Homo sapiens: one gene and its partner. The gene in region 2 interacts genetically with the main gene of each other region. Each region holds a gene or a part of one and is shown on either strand. Other genes may lie near its edges.

Evidence for each region. A genetic interaction does not mean that the proteins touch.
Region 1: changes in EGFR (region 2) and ORC3 together harm fitness more than expected from each alone (negative genetic interaction), as found in Homo sapiens cells (one large-scale study listed by BioGRID).

Annotation. Positions count from the first base shown.
Region 1 is NC_000006.12:87,592,560-87,597,786, forward strand, and holds part of ORC3 (origin recognition complex subunit 3), read left to right. Parts: intron 1-1,791; exon of another isoform or gene 1,792-1,793; coding exon 1,794-1,848; intron 1,849-1,967; exon of another isoform or gene 1,968-2,054; intron 2,055-5,227. UniProt on the Homo sapiens protein: Component of the origin recognition complex (ORC) that binds origins of replication. DNA-binding is ATP-dependent. The specific DNA sequences that define origins of replication have not been identified yet.
Region 2 is NC_000007.14:55,206,378-55,212,017, forward strand, and holds the end of EGFR (epidermal growth factor receptor isoform a precursor), read left to right. Parts: 3' UTR 1-5,251; downstream 5,252-5,640. UniProt on the Homo sapiens protein: Receptor tyrosine kinase binding ligands of the EGF family and activating several signaling cascades to convert extracellular cues into appropriate cellular responses.

The DNA.
Region 1 (5,227 bases), on a different chromosome or scaffold from region 2:
TAGAGGTTACAGTGAGCCAAGATTGTGCCATTGCACTCTAGCCTGGGCAACAGAGGGAGACTCTGTCTCAACAATAGCAGAAAAAAGAATCTAAGGCACAGTTCTTAAATGGGAACATGTAATCCAAATGGCTACTTTATAGTTGCACAGCGGTCTTTAACACTATCCTGAGACAACTTTTCCTAGGTATCGTTCTTTCATTCTGTCTTTTATTTTCCATAGAAATCGAAATATTTAAGAAGTTATCCATCAGGCCGGGTGCAGTGGCTCATGCCTCTAATCCCAGCACTTTGGGAGGCCGAGGCGGATGGATCACGAGATCAGGAGTGCGAGACCAGCCTGGCCAACATAGTGAAACCCCGTCTCTACTAAAAATACAATAAATTAGCCAGGCATGGTGGTGGGCACCTGTCATCCCAGCTACTCAGGAGGCTGAGGCAGGAGAATGGCTTGAACCCGGGAGGCAAAGGTTGCAGTGAGCCAGGATCGCACCATTGCACTCCAGCCTGGACGACAGAGCGAGACTCTGTCTCAAAAAAACAAACAAACAAACAAAAAAAAACTATAAGCTATCCATCATGTATGACTTTAGAATTGGTAGAATAGACTAGGACCACTAACTTGGGGGTGATCTACCACTGGTCAAACAATAATATGAAACTAAACATAGCTGGGAAATTACCAGGACAGTTATTTGGCAAGCATTTATTCATTCCATATTCTGATTGCCTAATATGTATGTTAGCACTATTCCAAACATTGGAGAAACAATTATAAATAAAATACAGTTTGTGCTTGAAGGCACTCACAGTCTACTCAGGGAGACACACCCATAAACAACTACGATATACAATTAAAGTGACTTAAAACAATGCAAAATAAAGATGTTCAAGTACTGAGAGATCTCGAGGAAAGGAGAATTTCTGGCTAGAGAATTGTGAAAGGTTTCCTGAAGGAGATGAGTGTTGAGTCAAACTTTAATGGATAAATGAGTAGGCATTTATCAGATGAAGAGAAGTATGTAGAGTGAAACAGCTGCAATTATCTATTTACTACTAAGGTTATAGATACTTCGAGTTTAAATAAGTTTCGGGTTGGGAGAACATCACTATTTTCAACCTTTTTAATCTTCATTTTTATTTATTTATTTTTTGAGACAGAGCTTCGCTCTTTGTTGCCCAGGCTGGAGTGCAATGGCACGATCTCAGCCCACTGCAGCCTCCATCTCCAGGGTTCAAGTGATTCTTCTGTCTGAGCCTCCCGAGTAGCTGGGATTACAGGCTCACACCAACACGCCTGGCTAATTTTTGCATTTTTAGTAGAGACAGGATTTCACCATGTTGGCCAGGCTGGTCTCAAACTCCTGACCTTGTGATCCACCCGCCTTGGCCTCCCAGAGTGCTGGGATTACAGGCATGAGCCACTGTGCCCAGCCCATTTTAATGTGTAGTATTAATTCCTTTAAGTTTATGAAAATGGAACCTTTCTGGGCTTAAATTTAATCAGCTTTTATTTTCTTTGTCTACCTCTTAGATCAGGTGTCAAAGAGCAAAATCAAAAATGGGCATCTCATGGGAGGGAGGGGAGAGAGTAGATAGTCCCCCTTGTTGTTTTAGAATTTTCCTTCTATAGGTCAGAGAGAAGTGATGTGATTTCTTAGAACCTGAAAGAAATGTGTTCTCTCCCCTAACATCTTTTTTTAAAAAAGTGCTTACCCATAAAATATTTGGTTAATCAGATTTCTCTGCTCCTTGGCTACTTTGACTTTATGCTTTTCGTCTTTCTTTTTATAGGGTTGCTTTGTTTTTAAGCCAAACTCCAAAAAGAGAAAGATCTCTCTGCCAATAGGTAAGGTGTCTGAATATTAAATTTTTTATTCCCTACCTTCTTAAACTATTAGGAACTAACCCTAATTGAATTTAGTAATTCTCTTGTCTAACCTTGGCTTACTTGCCATGTTGATGTAGCATTTATGTTCCAAGGCATTGGTCAAAGAGATAAGAGGACACCCCAGGGCTCTAATTGAAAAGAGAATCCAATTACACCTTCCAAAGGTAAGTTGGAAGCAAATTTCCTTCAAAGGATATGCTGCTATTCTTTAAAAGAGATTGTCTTTTTGATTACTTCTCTGCCATTGTTTTTTTATCTACAACTTTAGAAATGAAAGTGAGTTTCTGCTAGAGAAACATTTTGATCCTTGATGAAGTAATCAAAACAATAAAGGCTGACTGGCAACCCAGATTTCTAATGATGGGGGAAATGTTATTTAGAAAATAAAATGATAATTGGTAACATAAGGAAAACCTAAGAAAGAATGATTATAAATTTGTATATATTTTCTAATGAAAATTGTATAAAAATTATTTTTGAGTTAAAATACAATATTCATGGGGAGACTTAAATATGCTTAAAAATTTTGATGTGATATTCCATTTTATGAATAAACTTGGCAAAATAAATTAAAGCAATCATCTATCTGTATGGAGCATTTTAGAACTTAGGGCTTAGTAACTACATGTGTGTTAGAATACTGCATGTTCTAACTTAGGGATAAATGCTGTGCACATCAATACATGCTGAGAAAAAAGCCCAAGGTCTTGGATCTCTTACAGTAATTCTACCTGCTAGAGCACAAAGTTATGGAATCACCTGGACTATAAGTAAAGGAATTGGAGTGTGATCCTGAGCCTGACCAGCTCTATGGCTTTGGCCCTGCTGTTTAACCTTTCCCTAAGTCTCTTCATCTGTAAAATGAGCAACTATACTCACTTATCACTAAGATTTCTCCCTATTCTCATTCTATCTCTCTAAGAGCTAACATGTAGTGCTTTGTAAGACTATCATAAATACCATGTGAATAAATTTGTGTTATTATGGATTGTTACCACCTTGGCCTTATAGTTTGTGTTCCAAGACTCCTATCTCTCACTAGCCTGAGGGAAGGGAAAAAGCTGAGAATGAGTAGCAGAAGACTTTCTACTCTCACAATGGCTACATATTTCCAAGTGGCCCAGATTTCCTCTCTTAGTCTTCACATCCTTTCTACCAGTTTGCACCCTCCATCATCTCTCGGAAGCACCAGGGTCCCACACAGTTCTCAATCACTCTTCATTTCATAAAACAAATTTGTTAAATTATTGAGTTTTAATCACTCATAGACACACATACTCATGATATTAAGGGAGTGGATTTTTATCACTCACTCAGACATACGCATACTCACACACTCATATACCCATGTGTGTAAGAGAGGAAAGACATTTCTTTTGGTTTTGTTTGTTGATTTATTTTAGAGACAGGGTCTCAGTCTGTCACCCAGGCTTCAGTTCGGCGGCCTGATCATAGCTCACTTCAGCCTTGAAAACTCCTGGGCTTAAATGATCCTCCCACCTCAGCCTCCCAAGTACCTGGGACTACAGGCATGCGCTACGACGCCTGGCTAATTATTTTTTAAAATTTTTTGTAGAGACAGGGTCTCACTTTGTTGCCCAGGTTGGTCCTGAATTCCAGGGCTCAAGTGATCCTCCCACCTCAGACCTCAAAGTGCTGGGATTACAGGTGTGAGCCACTGTGCCCAGCCTAATTTGTTTGTTTGTTTTTGTTTTTTTTTTTTGAGACGGAGTCTAGCTCTCAGCATGATCTCAGCTCACTGCAACCTCCGCCTCCCAGGTTCAAGCGATTCTCCTGCCTCAGTCTCCCGAGTAGCTGGGACTACAGGCATGCGCCACAATGCCTGGCTAATTTTTGTATTTTTTAGTAGAGATCGGGTTTCACTATGTTGGCCAGGCTGATCTCGAACTCCCGGCCTTGTGATCTGCCCACCTCAGCCTTCCAAAGTGCTAGGATTACAGGTGTGAGTCACTGTGCTCGGCTGTTTGTTTTTTTGTTGTTTTTTTTTTTTTAAGGCAAAAACAACACAGGTTGTGTTAAAGTCCCAGTGGTTTCCTGGGATGAAGTAGGGGGAATTAACTGCAAAAAGGCAAGAGGGAACTTTCTGGAGTGATGGAAATGTTCTCTGTTGACAGAGTGGTTATGTAAGTATATACCTGGGTCAAACTGTTAAAATGGTTGTGTTTAATTATTTGTAAATTATACCTCAATAAAATTCAATTAATAAAAAAAGATACTGTCTTCACTTTTTTCATTTATATCCTGATACCTGTTTAGTGATCAAATTAAGAAGACTTGACTTCTTCAATCAAATCCAGTATTACTATCAGAATGTATTTATTGCACCGGTTCTCAATCATAGCTTCACATTAGAATCATTTGGGGAACTTTGAAAAGTCTTATTTTAATATAATTGTAGATGCACATATAATTACAGGTAATACTCTTCCACCAGTAAGTACCCTACGACCAGTTATCCCCAGTGGCAGTATCTTACATAACTATAGTACAGTGTCACAATTAAGAAACTGATATTAATACAATCTAGTGACCTTATTCAATTCCAACTTGTGGGACTTTGAAAAAATGCAGGGTGAGAGTTCCTTATCCCAAATCTTGGGACCAGAAGTGTTTTGGTTATTGGAATTTTTTCAGATTTTGAAATATATACCTGTATATAATGAGATAATCTTGGGAATGAGACCCAAGTCTAAAAATAAAATTCATTCATGTTTCATATACACCTTAACCACATAGCCTGAAACGAATTTTACATAATATTTTAAATAATATTGTGCATGAAACAAAGTTTTGGCTGTGTTTTGACTGCGACCTGTCACTTGAGGTGAGATATGGAATTTTCCACTTGTGGCATCATGTTGGTACTCAAAAAGTTTCAGATTCTGGAGGATTTCAGATTTTTGGATTAGAGATGCTCAACCTGTGCCAATGCTAAGACCCTAACCCGGATCAATTGAATTAGAATCTCAAGAGTGGGGCCTAAGTGTTAGAATTTTTCAAAAGCTCCCCACAGGGTTATTGAGTATATACATTCCATATTCAGCACTGTGAAAATTAATTCCAGTGGAAAAATTATGATATGGAATTAAGCATACCCATGTACTAGTTTTGAATTGAAAAAATGAACTATGCCACTGTTTGACTAAGGAAATAAATGGATAACTTGAATATATAGAATAGGATTTTTTTTAAGTAATGATATATATATATACACACACACACACACACACACACACACACATATATATATAATTTTTTTTTAAAATAGAGATGGGATCTTACTATGTTGCCCAGGCTGGTCCTGAACTCCTGAGTT
Region 2 (5,640 bases):
AAACTCAGTATGCTGCCCCTGTCTTGCTGTCATGAAATCAGCAAGAGAGGATGACACATCAAATAATAACTCGGATTCCAGCCCACATTGGATTCATCAGCATTTGGACCAATAGCCCACAGCTGAGAATGTGGAATACCTAAGGATAGCACCGCTTTTGTTCTCGCAAAAACGTATCTCCTAATTTGAGGCTCAGATGAAATGCATCAGGTCCTTTGGGGCATAGATCAGAAGACTACAAAAATGAAGCTGCTCTGAAATCTCCTTTAGCCATCACCCCAACCCCCCAAAATTAGTTTGTGTTACTTATGGAAGATAGTTTTCTCCTTTTACTTCACTTCAAAAGCTTTTTACTCAAAGAGTATATGTTCCCTCCAGGTCAGCTGCCCCCAAACCCCCTCCTTACGCTTTGTCACACAAAAAGTGTCTCTGCCTTGAGTCATCTATTCAAGCACTTACAGCTCTGGCCACAACAGGGCATTTTACAGGTGCGAATGACAGTAGCATTATGAGTAGTGTGGAATTCAGGTAGTAAATATGAAACTAGGGTTTGAAATTGATAATGCTTTCACAACATTTGCAGATGTTTTAGAAGGAAAAAAGTTCCTTCCTAAAATAATTTCTCTACAATTGGAAGATTGGAAGATTCAGCTAGTTAGGAGCCCACCTTTTTTCCTAATCTGTGTGTGCCCTGTAACCTGACTGGTTAACAGCAGTCCTTTGTAAACAGTGTTTTAAACTCTCCTAGTCAATATCCACCCCATCCAATTTATCAAGGAAGAAATGGTTCAGAAAATATTTTCAGCCTACAGTTATGTTCAGTCACACACACATACAAAATGTTCCTTTTGCTTTTAAAGTAATTTTTGACTCCCAGATCAGTCAGAGCCCCTACAGCATTGTTAAGAAAGTATTTGATTTTTGTCTCAATGAAAATAAAACTATATTCATTTCCACTCTATTATGCTCTCAAATACCCCTAAGCATCTATACTAGCCTGGTATGGGTATGAAAGATACAAAGATAAATAAAACATAGTCCCTGATTCTAAGAAATTCACAATTTAGCAAAGGAAATGGACTCATAGATGCTAACCTTAAAACAACGTGACAAATGCCAGACAGGACCCATCAGCCAGGCACTGTGAGAGCACAGAGCAGGGAGGTTGGGTCCTGCCTGAGGAGACCTGGAAGGGAGGCCTCACAGGAGGATGACCAGGTCTCAGTCAGCGGGGAGGTGGAAAGTGCAGGTGCATCAGGGGCACCCTGACCGAGGAAACAGCTGCCAGAGGCCTCCACTGCTAAAGTCCACATAAGGCTGAGGTCAGTCACCCTAAACAACCTGCTCCCTCTAAGCCAGGGGATGAGCTTGGAGCATCCCACAAGTTCCCTAAAAGTTGCAGCCCCCAGGGGGATTTTGAGCTATCATCTCTGCACATGCTTAGTGAGAAGACTACACAACATTTCTAAGAATCTGAGATTTTATATTGTCAGTTAACCACTTTCATTATTCATTCACCTCAGGACATGCAGAAATATTTCAGTCAGAACTGGGAAACAGAAGGACCTACATTCTGCTGTCACTTATGTGTCAAGAAGCAGATGATCGATGAGGCAGGTCAGTTGTAAGTGAGTCACATTGTAGCATTAAATTCTAGTATTTTTGTAGTTTGAAACAGTAACTTAATAAAAGAGCAAAAGCTATTCTAGCTTTCTTCTTCATATTTTAATTTTCCACCATAAAGTTTAGTTGCTAAATTCTATTAATTTTAAGATTGTGCTTCCCAAAATAGTTCTCACTTCATCTGTCCAGGGAGGCACAGTTCTGTCTGGTAGAAGCCGCAAAGCCCTTAGCCTCTTCACGGATCTGGCGACTGTGATGGGCAGGTCAGGAGAGGAGCTGCCCAAAGTCCCATGATTTTCACCTAACAGCCCTGATCAGTCAGTACTCAAAGCTTGGACTCCATCCCTGAAGGTCTTCCTGATTGATAGCCTGGCCTTAATACCCTACAGAAAGCCTGTCCATTGGCTGTTTCTTCCTCAGTCAGTTCCTGGAAGACCTTACCCCATGACCCCAGCTTCAGATGTGGTCTTTGGAAACAGAGGTCGAAGGAAAGTAAGGAGCTGAGAGCTCACATTCATAGGTGCCGCCAGCCTTCGTGCATCTTCTTGCATCATCTCTAAGGAGCTCCTCTAATTACACCATGCCCGTCACCCCATGAGGGATCAGAGAAGGGATGAGTCTTCTAAACTCTATATTCGCTGTGAGTCCAGGTTGTAAGGGGGAGCACTGTGGATGCATCCTATTGCACTCCAGCTGATGACACCAAAGCTTAGGTGTTTGCTGAAAGTTCTTGATGTTGTGACTTACCACCCCTGCCTCACAACTGCAGACATAAGGGGACTATGGATTGCTTAGCAGGAAAGGCACTGGTTCTCAAGGGCGGCTGCCCTTGGGAATCTTCTGGTCCCAACCAGAAAGACTGTGGCTTGATTTTCTCAGGTGCAGCCCAGCCGTAGGGCCTTTTCAGAGCACCCCCTGGTTATTGCAACATTCATCAAAGTTTCTAGAACCTCTGGCCTAAAGGAAGGGCCTGGTGGGATCTACTTGGCACTCGCTGGGGGGCCACCCCCCAGTGCCACTCTCACTAGGCCTCTGATTGCACTTGTGTAGGATGAAGCTGGTGGGTGATGGGAACTCAGCACCTCCCCTCAGGCAGAAAAGAATCATCTGTGGAGCTTCAAAAGAAGGGGCCTGGAGTCTCTGCAGACCAATTCAACCCAAATCTCGGGGGCTCTTTCATGATTCTAATGGGCAACCAGGGTTGAAACCCTTATTTCTAGGGTCTTCAGTTGTACAAGACTGTGGGTCTGTACCAGAGCCCCCGTCAGAGTAGAATAAAAGGCTGGGTAGGGTAGAGATTCCCATGTGCAGTGGAGAGAACAATCTGCAGTCACTGATAAGCCTGAGACTTGGCTCATTTCAAAAGCGTTCAATTCATCCTCACCAGCAGTTCAGCTGGAAAGGGGCAAATACCCCCACCTGAGCTTTGAAAACGCCCTGGGACCCTCTGCATTCTCTAAGTAAGTTATAGAAACCAGTCTCTTCCCTCCTTTGTGAGTGAGCTGCTATTCCACGTAGGCAACACCTGTTGAAATTGCCCTCAATGTCTACTCTGCATTTCTTTCTTGTGATAAGCACACACTTTTATTGCAACATAATGATCTGCTCACATTTCCTTGCCTGGGGGCTGTAAAACCTTACAGAACAGAAATCCTTGCCTCTTTCACCAGCCACACCTGCCATACCAGGGGTACAGCTTTGTACTATTGAAGACACAGACAGGATTTTTAAATGTAAATCTATTTTTGTAACTTTGTTGCGGGATATAGTTCTCTTTATGTAGCACTGAACTTTGTACAATATATTTTTAGAAACTCATTTTTCTACTAAAACAAACACAGTTTACTTTAGAGAGACTGCAATAGAATCAAAATTTGAAACTGAAATCTTTGTTTAAAAGGGTTAAGTTGAGGCAAGAGGAAAGCCCTTTCTCTCTCTTATAAAAAGGCACAACCTCATTGGGGAGCTAAGCTAGGTCATTGTCATGGTGAAGAAGAGAAGCATCGTTTTTATATTTAGGAAATTTTAAAAGATGATGGAAAGCACATTTAGCTTGGTCTGAGGCAGGTTCTGTTGGGGCAGTGTTAATGGAAAGGGCTCACTGTTGTTACTACTAGAAAAATCCAGTTGCATGCCATACTCTCATCATCTGCCAGTGTAACCCTGTACATGTAAGAAAAGCAATAACATAGCACTTTGTTGGTTTATATATATAATGTGACTTCAATGCAAATTTTATTTTTATATTTACAATTGATATGCATTTACCAGTATAAACTAGACATGTCTGGAGAGCCTAATAATGTTCAGCACACTTTGGTTAGTTCACCAACAGTCTTACCAAGCCTGGGCCCAGCCACCCTAGAGAAGTTATTCAGCCCTGGCTGCAGTGACATCACCTGAGGAGCTTTTAAAAGCTTGAAGCCCAGCTACACCTCAGACCGATTAAACGCAAATCTCTGGGGCTGAAACCCAAGCATTCGTAGTTTTTAAAGCTCCTGAGGTCATTCCAATGTGCGGCCAAAGTTGAGAACTACTGGCCTAGGGATTAGCCACAAGGACATGGACTTGGAGGCAAATTCTGCAGGTGTATGTGATTCTCAGGCCTAGAGAGCTAAGACACAAAGACCTCCACATCTGTCGCTGAGAGTCAAGAACCTGAACAGAGTTTCCATGAAGGTTCTCCAAGCACTAGAAGGGAGAGTGTCTAAACAATGGTTGAAAAGCAAAGGAAATATAAAACAGACACCTCTTTCCATTTCCTAAGGTTTCTCTCTTTATTAAGGGTGGACTAGTAATAAAATATAATATTCTTGCTGCTTATGCAGCTGACATTGTTGCCCTCCCTAAAGCAACCAAGTAGCCTTTATTTCCCACAGTGAAAGAAAACGCTGGCCTATCAGTTACATTACAAAAGGCAGATTTCAAGAGGATTGAGTAAGTAGTTGGATGGCTTTCATAAAAACAAGAATTCAAGAAGAGGATTCATGCTTTAAGAAACATTTGTTATACATTCCTCACAAATTATACCTGGGATAAAAACTATGTAGCAGGCAGTGTGTTTTCCTTCCATGTCTCTCTGCACTACCTGCAGTGTGTCCTCTGAGGCTGCAAGTCTGTCCTATCTGAATTCCCAGCAGAAGCACTAAGAAGCTCCACCCTATCACCTAGCAGATAAAACTATGGGGAAAACTTAAATCTGTGCATACATTTCTGGATGCATTTACTTATCTTTAAAAAAAAAGGAATCCTATGACCTGATTTGGCCACAAAAATAATCTTGCTGTACAATACAATCTCTTGGAAATTAAGAGATCCTATGGATTTGATGACTGGTATTAGAGGTGACAATGTAACCGATTAACAACAGACAGCAATAACTTCGTTTTAGAAACATTCAAGCAATAGCTTTATAGCTTCAACATATGGTACGTTTTAACCTTGAAAGTTTTGCAATGATGAAAGCAGTATTTGTACAAATGAAAAGCAGAATTCTCTTTTATATGGTTTATACTGTTGATCAGAAATGTTGATTGTGCATTGAGTATTAAAAAATTAGATGTATATTATTCATTGTTCTTTACTCCTGAGTACCTTATAATAATAATAATGTATTCTTTGTTAACAATGCCATGTTGGTACTAGTTATTAATCATATCTAACCAACTGTAGGTGTTCTTTCCTGATAACTTTTTTAAAAAATCAATAAATTATTTTTAGAGCAGTTTTAGGTTCACAGCAAAACTAAGCAGAAAGTTCAGAGAGCCCCCCCTGTCGCTAACCAGCCTCTCCCACCATCACCATCGCACCTCAGGAACCAGAGAACTTTTTAATGGAAAAAAAATCCAAGCCAGCTCGGAGGCTTCCTCCTGTGTCTGGGCCAGCCCCTCGGGCTCTCAGATGCATTCCAACTCAAGCTCTTCACATGCCAGAGCCTTCCAGTGCCCTTGAGACCCCTCATTCCAAAGATCTCTTCATAGTTTTTCTCCTTCACAGAGCCAAGAGGGAATTCCCTGA